Linked DNA regions of Homo sapiens: region 1 is linked to region 2. Evidence: fine-mapped expression QTL. Tissue or cell type: gastroesophageal junction. Region 2 holds a variant in brackets; the other region holds the start of a gene. All regions are shown on one strand. Distances are from middle to middle.

What was found. PIP is the estimated chance that this variant, and not a neighbour inherited with it, causes the effect.
Region 1: it holds the start of SEMA3B-AS1, and the variant in region 2 is fine-mapped to the expression of SEMA3B-AS1 in gastroesophageal junction (GTEx, PIP above 0.99). The same link has a PIP of 0.9 or more in prostate.

What each region holds. Positions count from the first base shown.
Region 1 is chr3:50,265,556-50,270,155 of GRCh38, reverse strand. It overlaps SEMA3B-AS1 (SEMA3B antisense RNA 1), which reads left to right and starts at 2,785. Exons shown (of 2, transcript NR_110702.1): 1 at 2,785-2,875; 2 at 3,269-3,515. It overlaps SEMA3B (semaphorin 3B), which reads right to left and starts at 1,009. Exons shown (of 17, transcript NM_001290060.2): 1 at 807-1,009; 2 at 1-29. The coding sequence starts at 915.
Region 2 is chr3:49,672,118-49,676,717 of GRCh38, reverse strand. APEH (acylaminoacyl-peptide hydrolase) reads right to left here and starts at 2,367. Exons shown (of 22, transcript NM_001640.4): 1 at 2,305-2,367; 2 at 2,097-2,229; 3 at 1,409-1,535; 4 at 931-1,024; 5 at 752-827; 6 at 499-662; 7 at 203-340; 8 at 18-109. The coding sequence starts at 2,316. It also overlaps a transcript of BSN not described here. RefSeq lists a silencer at 2,073-2,682. The variant T/GT (reference allele first, on the strand shown) is at 2,721.

The DNA.
Region 1 (4,600 bases), 590 kb before region 2:
AGTCTGGAGACCATGCCAGGCCTGGAGCTCTGCAGGGCAGGACACTGCTGATGACTCGCCAGCCATGCTGGAAGCCTCCCCCAGGTCCTGCCTGGTGGTGACTCTATCGGCCAAGGTTGCCATTAGGACCTGGCCTGTACACATGTGAGTTTACATGTGTGTGAGTTTACACACGCAAACCCAAGCCCACCCAGGTGCACGTGTGGAGCTGCCAGGGTAGGTGGTACATCCCCCCAGGAAGAGGAAGGCAGGTTGAACTTGGGCATGCTCAGACAGGTGGTGTCTCCAGGCGGGCGCACTGGGAGGCAAGGCTTATGGACACCAGAGTCCTGGGGGAGACTGGCATGCAGGGATGGCCAGAACCCCAACTCCCAAAAGTCAGGCTGAGAGTTCCTTTCCTGCCACTCCACCACCAGCCTGAGCTCAGCAGAACTGCCTATTCACTGCCACTGCCCAGGGGCCACCCTCCTATACAGGAGGCATGAGAAGGGGGCTCTGACTTCCCTGTTGCTCTGCTGAAGGAGTATCGCCTTGTTGGGGGTACTGAACGGAACAGAGACAAGGTCTGTTGCTGTGGGGACAGGAGGGGTCTTCCTGAGAAAGCACGAAGAGAATGTGGGCAGAGGCTGGGGGCTGAGGCCCGGACAGGGTTAACTGGAGGTGGCCTGAGAGTGCCCACTAATCCTACCAGAGTCTGGTGACAGGCACGCACATGGGGCAACAGCCAACACAGAGCCCCCTGGCCATACGGGGACCCTTTCCTGCCCACCTCAAGCTGGGCCCTCCCGCCTGCCAGGTGCACCTACCTTGGAAGGAGAGCCGAAGGCGTGGGGGGCTGGGGGCGGCACTCCCCAGCCCCACTGCCCAGAGCAGGGCCAGGCCCGGGATCACGGCGGCAGCCCCGGCCCGCCCCATCTCAGCAGCTCAGGGTGCTCAGGGTTCAGCGGGTGTGTGTGTGGAGGAGCCTTGAGCTGCCCTGGACTCTGCCCCAGGATCTGGAAGAGGAGTCAGCAGTGAGGGCGAGGGCGGGAGGCTAGGGGGGGAGTCCCCAGGGATCAGATTACAGCCCCTAGGGGAAAGAGGCTGGGGGGTCGCATTCCACTTCCGAACCCTCCCCTCCGAGGGTGCCCCGCCTGGCCACAATCACAGACACACCCACGCCACTGGGCACACCCTCAGGGTCACCCTGCACTGGCAAGCCCGCCTCACCACGTCACCCTTCCCAGTAATCTCCTCTCTTGTATACACACTCACAGACATTAATTCACAATGTGCCACCCACTTCATGCCAGCCTAGACCTGGGAGGAGGGATACTGGGAGACATAGACAAGGTCCCCATGTGAAAGGGGACAGAGTGCCAACAAGGAATCAGATGGATGCAGAGGGTGCCAAGTGCAATGAGCAAAACAAGCCAGTCAAAAGAGTGAGAGTGACAGGAGGGGGTCAGGCCTCTGGAGGTGGCAGTGTCCCCACAGTCCCGCAGAAAAACACAGAGACACTTTTGAGGCTGGAGCCAAGGGTGTGGGTGCCTGTGAATGTGTTTCCGAGTGTCCCCTTGTGATGTGCGCATGTGTGTAGTGTGTATGTGCATGTGTGTGCACATCTATGTGCAAATATATAGTGTGTCATATTGCACATGTGTGGATATGGGTTGGTGTGCACACACATGTGGCACTGTGCAATCCATGCAGTACATATGTGTGATATGTGCATATTTTGCACACAGATGTGTTGCACATTTGTGCATGTGCAAACGTGTGCACCCATAAGAATAGACATGTCTCTGGGCATGCAAGTGAGCAAATCCAACTGCAGCATCAATCACTCCATTCCTCAGAGGGAGAAGTGCTACCCAGGAGACCCAAGACCTGGGCAGAAGCCTCAGCCTCTGACTTGGGGACTGCTCCCAACCCAGCTGAAGCAGCCTCTGCATTTGAGCTTGAGGGCTCTCTCTCCACACCCCTGAGGAATCAAAGAGGGGCAAGGTGAGGCAGCCCTTCATTTGCACCCCAGCCTCCTGGCCTCGCTGAGCTGGCCTTCCCTCTCAACGCCTCCACAGCCTCTCTGAGCCTCTCCCTTCACTTCTCTCACCCCTTGAGTTCTTCCCCATCTTTGAGCCCCTTCACTCTAGGAGCCAGACACCTCCCCCTGGCCCTCAGCTGGGGCAAAGACCTGGCTGCTATGCCCACCCTCCTTCCCAGGGGTCAGCTGGGCAGGTGCTGGACACAGGAGCCCAGGGAGTGGGACAAGGTTCCAGGTGGGATTAAGCAAGTGGAGCAGCTGCTGAGGCAGGTTCCAGGCCCCTCCACCCACACTCCTGCCCAGCTCCTGGCCCCATCCCAGGCCAGGACCCCCACCTCCCTCCTTCCCTCCGCTGACACTTGCCGCTGCCTCTTCTCAGGTTCTAGAGGTCTTCCAGGCCAACACTGGCTGCCTTCTCACACTCCACCGAGGACTTCCGCAGCAGCATCTCTCCACTCTGGCCCCTTCCCACCCTGGGGCCGCTGGGGACCCTCTGACGGCTCCTTTAAGAAGCAGCCCCCGCCCCCACCAGGCCAGCCACCGCCCCACGCACCGCCCGCCGTGCCGTAAAGTTTAGAGGGCGGATCGGGTGACCGGGCAGGCAGCCGGGACCAGCTGGAGACGGCAGCCAGGCGGGAGTGGAATGGGCACAAGGGAGGGGCTGGTAGGGACGACCCCTCCCATATTGGGCCTTAAAGCAGAAGGGTGCCCCAGGTGGCGGTCCCAGAAGCCAGGTGGCCAGCCAAGGCAAGGGAGGAAGAAACCCCAGCTCCAGGGGCTCAGCAGGCAAAGGGAATCACTGAGTGGGGGCACCACCCGTGGACTCCAATATCTCAACCTCTCCCTCCACAGGTGGGGAGCTGTGGGGAAAGATAATGGGGAGCTCAGCTGCCACCTCAGTTCCCAGGGACCGGCTGGGGTGGCCGGGCAGCTGGAGGTCAGGGGAGGGGCTCTCAACTGGAGGTCGGATGGGCCCTCAGGACCCAGTCCCCATCCTTCCTCAACACTTGGGCCACTTAGTACTTCAGTGGCCTGGCCAGCAGTGGCTTCTACCATGACAGCCAGATAGGGGAGGGAGAGGAGGGCAGGAGAGGGGCAGACGCAGGAGGAGCAGCAAATCTCACTTCTGCACCACAGGGCGGGGCCCATCTGGAGTCCGCCATCCTGGACAGGTAGCTTTGCATCTCTGCTGAGAGGTTGGGGGGCAGACCATGTGACCTCCCTTCCTCTGGCTTCTCTTTCTAGGTTGGAGGTGGGAGGAACAACCCCCACCAAACCCAGAGCCGAAAACTGAGGGAGTTTTACAGACAGGACGGAGCTCCTGCACCTCGGAGCCTCAGTTGGGAATGACCTGGGGTCTTGTCCTGAAGCTGAGTCTGGTGAACGTGCCCCATTTGTAACATGAGGGGTACTTCTCTGGAGGGACTGTATGTTGACAGTGGCAGAGTGGAGCCCTGAAGTCCACCTGAGTGAATATACCAGGGCTTGAGAATGGGCTTTGATCCTTCCATCCCCGCAAAAGGCATTTTCCTACCACCTCCCAAGGCTGATGGGGCAGTGTGGGCATTTCAAGTGTTGCAGTTCTGTTGCCCAGCCCTGGATGCCTCCAGCCAAGCAAGGACAGAGGTGGGGGGCACATCTCCAAGTCCCCTGGAAGTGGAAGTGGGGCTATGCCCCTCCTTCCTGAGCCTGAGGACCTGGTATACCTGGCCTGGCCTGGCCAGCTGGCAGGTAAATAACAGGGGCCAGTGGGAGCCGCAGGGCCCTTCAGGAGGGCAAGTGGAAGGACAGATCCCTGCCTGGGCTCGTGGGCTTCCTGGATGTGGCCTTTTCCTACTCCAGGAGTAGCTGCCTCTAGCCTTAGAGGACCTGGGCAGGCTCTCCTGGCTCCATGCAAGCAGACAACATTCTTTGGCTGTTTACAGCTTTCCACCCAAGCAGCCAGGATCAGCAAGTGCCTCAGAGGCTCCCATCCACTCCCACTGTGCCCCCATAGGCCCTCACTGCCTTATGTTTTTCCAGGCCCAGGGGCCCTGTCTCTGTTTCATCACCCCGCACCTTCCTCCACCTGTGTTCACTCTGGGAAACGGTATCAGAAACCCCCCCGCCACCGCCATTATCTTTCCAATAGCCTGGGAGTCAACCCCCAGCCAAAAGGACTAGACTGTCTCTGTCCCCATTGAGTGCTGTGCCCTGTCCTCTGTCCTCTAGATGTGTACCCTCCCTTGAGTAGGAATGGAGGTCTCCAGGGATGGGAGGTCAAGTTGTCCCTGATTCCACATGGTCCCCTTTCTGTTCCTCAGCCCCAGGTCCAGTGTGCCAGGCCATGGGTAGGGGCCCCCATGGAGGTCAGCACTCCAGGAGCAAGGTCACTGCCTGTGGGTCACACTGGGGGCTGGAACTCCTCGAGGATTCTGGAATCAGGCAGCCTGAGCCTGAGTCTCAACAGAATGGGGCAAACCAGGCAAGGCAGCTGGGGTCCCTTTTCCTGCCTGTACTCCTACCCTGGACCTCTCTCTTTTGAGGGAGCTTCCATGGGCAGAGACCTGCCTGGGTCCTTGCTCTGGGGCTGCCTGT
Region 2 (4,600 bases):
TTGCCCCACTCCCTCACCTGCGATTGGTGCAAAAGCGGATGCCCAACCGGAAGGGCTCATGCCACCAGCCCACAAACACCACACCAGCATCTCCAGGGGCCCAAAATGCCTGTAAACAGGATCAAAGGGCAGGAGTGAGCAAGGGGTGGTAGCTCAAGAAGGGTCCCAGACTCCAGGGGGGACACAGGCTGTTGCTGCTGACCTGTCCAGGGGACACATTCTCAGGGACCCCCTCAAGCACAGAGATGTTGCCACTCTCGACATCCAGCACGCAGAGCACAGGGATGCTTTTGGAAACCATGTTTTCTCCCCAGTCTTCATAAAACACAAACTGATCCCCCTGAGAACACAAGATACTCAATGCCCAGCCTGTCTATAGGACCTGCTCTGCTTCCTAAAAGCTAGTGCCTCCCCAGGTCTGACAGGCACAGTATGGGAAGGGAGCACACTGAGCCCCAGGGCTGCCCTGCCGGGCCTTCGTGGATTGACCACGAGCACCTTGATGGCTTGGTCTGGCTTCTTCAGCCTGGCTATCTCATCATCGCTGGCACTGACGTCCAAGGCTTTGGTCTGAAAGAAGGACTCGGCCTTGGGGCGCTTCTTCTCTGCCACATACAACAAGTGTGTCTCCGAGTGCGACCAGGACAGGCAGCCAAAGCAGTCTGGGTGCAGGGAGGGCCAATCAGGGGGGGCCCAGGGCTACGGCTACCCCTCCTGTCCACCCTGCCTGCTCACCAGCCAGATGCCTCACCATCCTCATAAACAGGCCCATGTTTCTCCAGCGCTGACAGGTTGAAGCTCTTGAGCTTCCGGTTCTTCTCCCAGACCTGAGGACATCTGGGCATTAGGCTGTTTGCCCGCTAACAGAGCCTTATCTGTGGGGCAGAGCCTCTCTCTTGTCACCCACTACCTGGTCCCATGCAGACTCACCTCCAGGAACTGCTTCTCTTCCCCAGGGCCCGTGCCTCCAGCCTTGCGCAGCACAGCTTTCATGGTGCCTGAAGGAGACTCTCTGCTCAGCAGTCTGTGGACATGGGGTAGCACAGGTCAGGATTATCTTGCAATAACCCCTTCCTGCTCCCTACTGGGCACACCTCTTAGGAGAGATTCTTGAGGCTCTGGCCCCACACCAGCTTCTGGAGCACCTCTAGCCCCACCTTGCCTTTCCTCCCTGAGGCAGAGACTCTACTCTCTGCAACTCCCCAGGCCACCATGGGCTCTAGTCCAGGCTGAGTTTGGAGCAAGCTTCCAGTGCTTATCAGGCCATGTCACCAGAAACTGAATGAGCTCCCAAGGGGGCAAGAACCTGGCTGCTGGCCTCCCTTCTAGGCACATGGTGAGCATTCATAAAAGGCTTGCATTGCGGACGGCTGTGGCCTTGCCCACAAGCTTCCTCCCTCAAACTTACTCCCCCCGGGTCTCCACACTGTTGCCTGCAGGTCCTGCAAACACCACTGAGTCCCCGTCATGGAACACCAGGTATTGGCGGCAGAATCGAATGTTCTCCATGCGTTCCAGGTCCCTCTGGGTCCACTCTGTGAGGGGAGGCATGAGACTGCTCACCTTGTCTTGGCTACTCCTGGCTACTGCCCCCAGCCCCACCTGACCCAGGAAGGCCTAGATCTATCTTCCCCAATCTCTCAATCTGTCTCCAGACACTGACACCCTGGCTGCAGGCTGGACAACACTTGGCCACAACCCTAGTCCAGGCCTCCAGAGCCTGAGCTGACAGCCTCTTTGAGAGAACCCCCTAGTAACCCCAGCATCCACCCTGGAATCTTGAGGGCAGCCTGGCATGTGTATGGGATGGCGTGTTGGTGGAGAGCCCTACAAGGTCCACGCCCTGAGCCCAGGTTTGACTTCTACCCCTACGCCGTCATCTCGTGCACTCATGGCCGCCATTCGATAACGCCCCGCACGCCCCCTCCCCCCCTCCACACACCTGTGTGCAGGGACCTGTGGGAGTGTAACCTCCAAGTCCAGGCCGGCTCCCTATATACCCTTACGCACTGTCAAGCAGCGAGCCCTCCACACCCCCTTCCTTCCCACCCCAGTGCGCGACCCCGTCGCCAGCCAGTTCCCCTTCGCACACACACCAGTGTGCACCGTCCGGTATTGGCCGCCGTACTGCGTGGTGACCTCCGGGCCCAGGCAGGCGGCGCTCAGCGCGGGCTGGCGGCTAAGGCCCCGATACAGAGCCGCCGCCTCCTCGGGCTCGCTCAGCAGCACCTGCGCAGGGGACACACCAGGGTCAGGCCCGGCCCGGGCTGCAGGGACCACGGGGACCGCGGGCCGAGCCCTCACCTGACGTTCCATAGTCTCCTCTCTGCCGCCGGGGCGAGGCGGGGCGTGCTCGCGCCCGGAAGTGAGGCTTCCGGGGGCGGAGCCTGGGACGGCCCGGGCTGTCTCCGCCCCTGCCCTGCGGCAATCTGTGAGGGGCGGGGCCTTCGGCTAATGGGTGAGGACCGTTGGCAGGGGGCGGGCCTTGACGGTGAGAGGACCCGGCCTGGGAGCGAGAAGTCCTGGGTGGGTGAGAGCAGGGGTCTCGCCAGGGGCGGACTAGCCAAGTGGGGGGCGGGGCCGTGGGCTGAGTCCTGGGCCTCTTACCGAGGGGCGAGGCGTTGGATCTCGGAGGAGAGGGGGCGGCCCTGTGGAAGCGGAACCCGGGAGCCCGGCTTCGGGGAGGGTAGAAGGGCCTACGAGAGAAGGGGTTGAGGGGG[T/GT]GCTGCAAGGCGGAAGCAGCGCGGTCGGACGGGCATGGCCCAAGCACGCGAAGGGCGGGGCCCGAGGGGAATGGGACCAATGAGTCTTTGAGGATGAAGGGCAAGGCGGGCGGGTCCGGATTGGAGCCCTGCGAGGAATGTGGAGCCGGGAGCCTGTGAGCGTGAGCGTGAGCGTGAGCGTGAGCGTGAGCGTGAGGGTGAGGGTTGGGCGGGGCGGAGCCGGCCGCAGCGTGGATCTCCCGCGGCTCTGGGGCTGACTGTAGGGTTCCTTCGGGTCCACCACGAGGCCGACATTCACTACACAGTGCCAGGCCCTGCCCTGGAGGGAGTTCCACGCAGACGAAGAAGAGAAGGGCCAGGGTCCGGGCGGAGGGCGCGAAGCAAAGCCCTGGGGTGCGGGGCAGAGGGGCGGGTGCCAACTCTTAGGGTGCTGCCCGGACTTATCAGTCGCCAGGCCTGCCGCAAGAGCTATCTATCCCCGCAGCCTTTACCCAGCCTTCTCAGTGGCACCTTGTTGGGGACCGTGAGCTGGTGGGTCCCTGCCTTCCTCCCCAGGCCTCACCCTGAGCTCTTGGGTGTGAAAGGCCTGGTGGGCTCAGACTCCACCCAGGACCAGGGAGCTTCCTGTGGAAAAAACCTAGGCAGGCAGGTTCCCTGTGCACGTGGTACAGGATTGGCTGGGCTAAGGTGCCAACAGAGATCAGGAGAGGCTGGACAGTAAGGATGTTCCCTCCATATACCTGAGTCTGGCTGGTCTTCCACATTCAGGGCCCTGGCTCCCTGCTCCATGGCGTGCTTGTGATTGAGAGTCCACTTGTCTGGCCTGTAGCTTCCCCTTTCCCATCAGCCGCATCATTACTTACTCAAGATAACTAGTTAAGTAAAAAAAAAAAAAAAAAAAAAAAAAAAAGTCCCGGCCGGCCGGGCGCGGTGGCTCACGCCTGTAATCCCTGCACTTTGGAAGGCCGAGGCGGGCGGATCACGAGGTCAGGAGATCGAGACCATCCTGGCTAACACGGTGAAACCCTGTCTCTACTAAAAATACAAAAAATTAGCTGGGCATGGTGGCAGGCGCCTGTAGTCCCAGTTACTCGGGAGGCTGAGGCAGGAGAATGGTGTGAACCCGGGAGGCGGAGCTTGCAGTGAGCCGAGATCGCGCCACTGCACTCCATCCTGGGCGACAGCCAGAGTCCATCTTAAAAAAAAAAAAAAAAAAGTGCCAGGCGCGGTGGCTCACGCCTATAATCCTAGCACTTTGGGAGGCTGAGGCGGGTGGATCACCTGAGGCCAGGAGTTCGGGATCAGCTTGGCCAACATGGAGAAACCCTGTCTCTACTAAAAATACAAAAATTAGCCGGGCTGGGTGGCACGCGCCTGTAATCCCAGCTACTCGGGAGGCTGAGGCAGGAGAATCGCTTGAACCTGGGAAGTGGAGGTTGCAGTGAGCCGAGATCATGCCACTGCACTCCAGCCTGGGCAACAAGAGTGAAACTCCGTCTCAAGAAAAAAAAAAAAAAAGAGTCCCAACTTTCTGACGCCACTGCATTTGTCAGTATGTACAGGACTGTATCAAGGCCAGAAACAGGAGTAGAATGAGTGGCCCCAGCCACCAATTTGGGTGGAAAGATTGGAAAATAGGATGTTCATCAAGCATTGTTTATAATAGGAACACTGGGAACATAGTGCCTGTTCCTTAGATTGTGTGTGGTAGACTGGCTATGAACTAATGGTGTATCTCTCTGGAGGTTGAGCACTGGAAGACGAACATTTAAGTACCTGAAATAAACGTGGAAATAAACAGAAAGCTAGAAAACAGGATATATTGCACCTTCTGGCTTCTGTTTAAAATGAAGACTGGAACAACAAACAGGAAAGAAGGA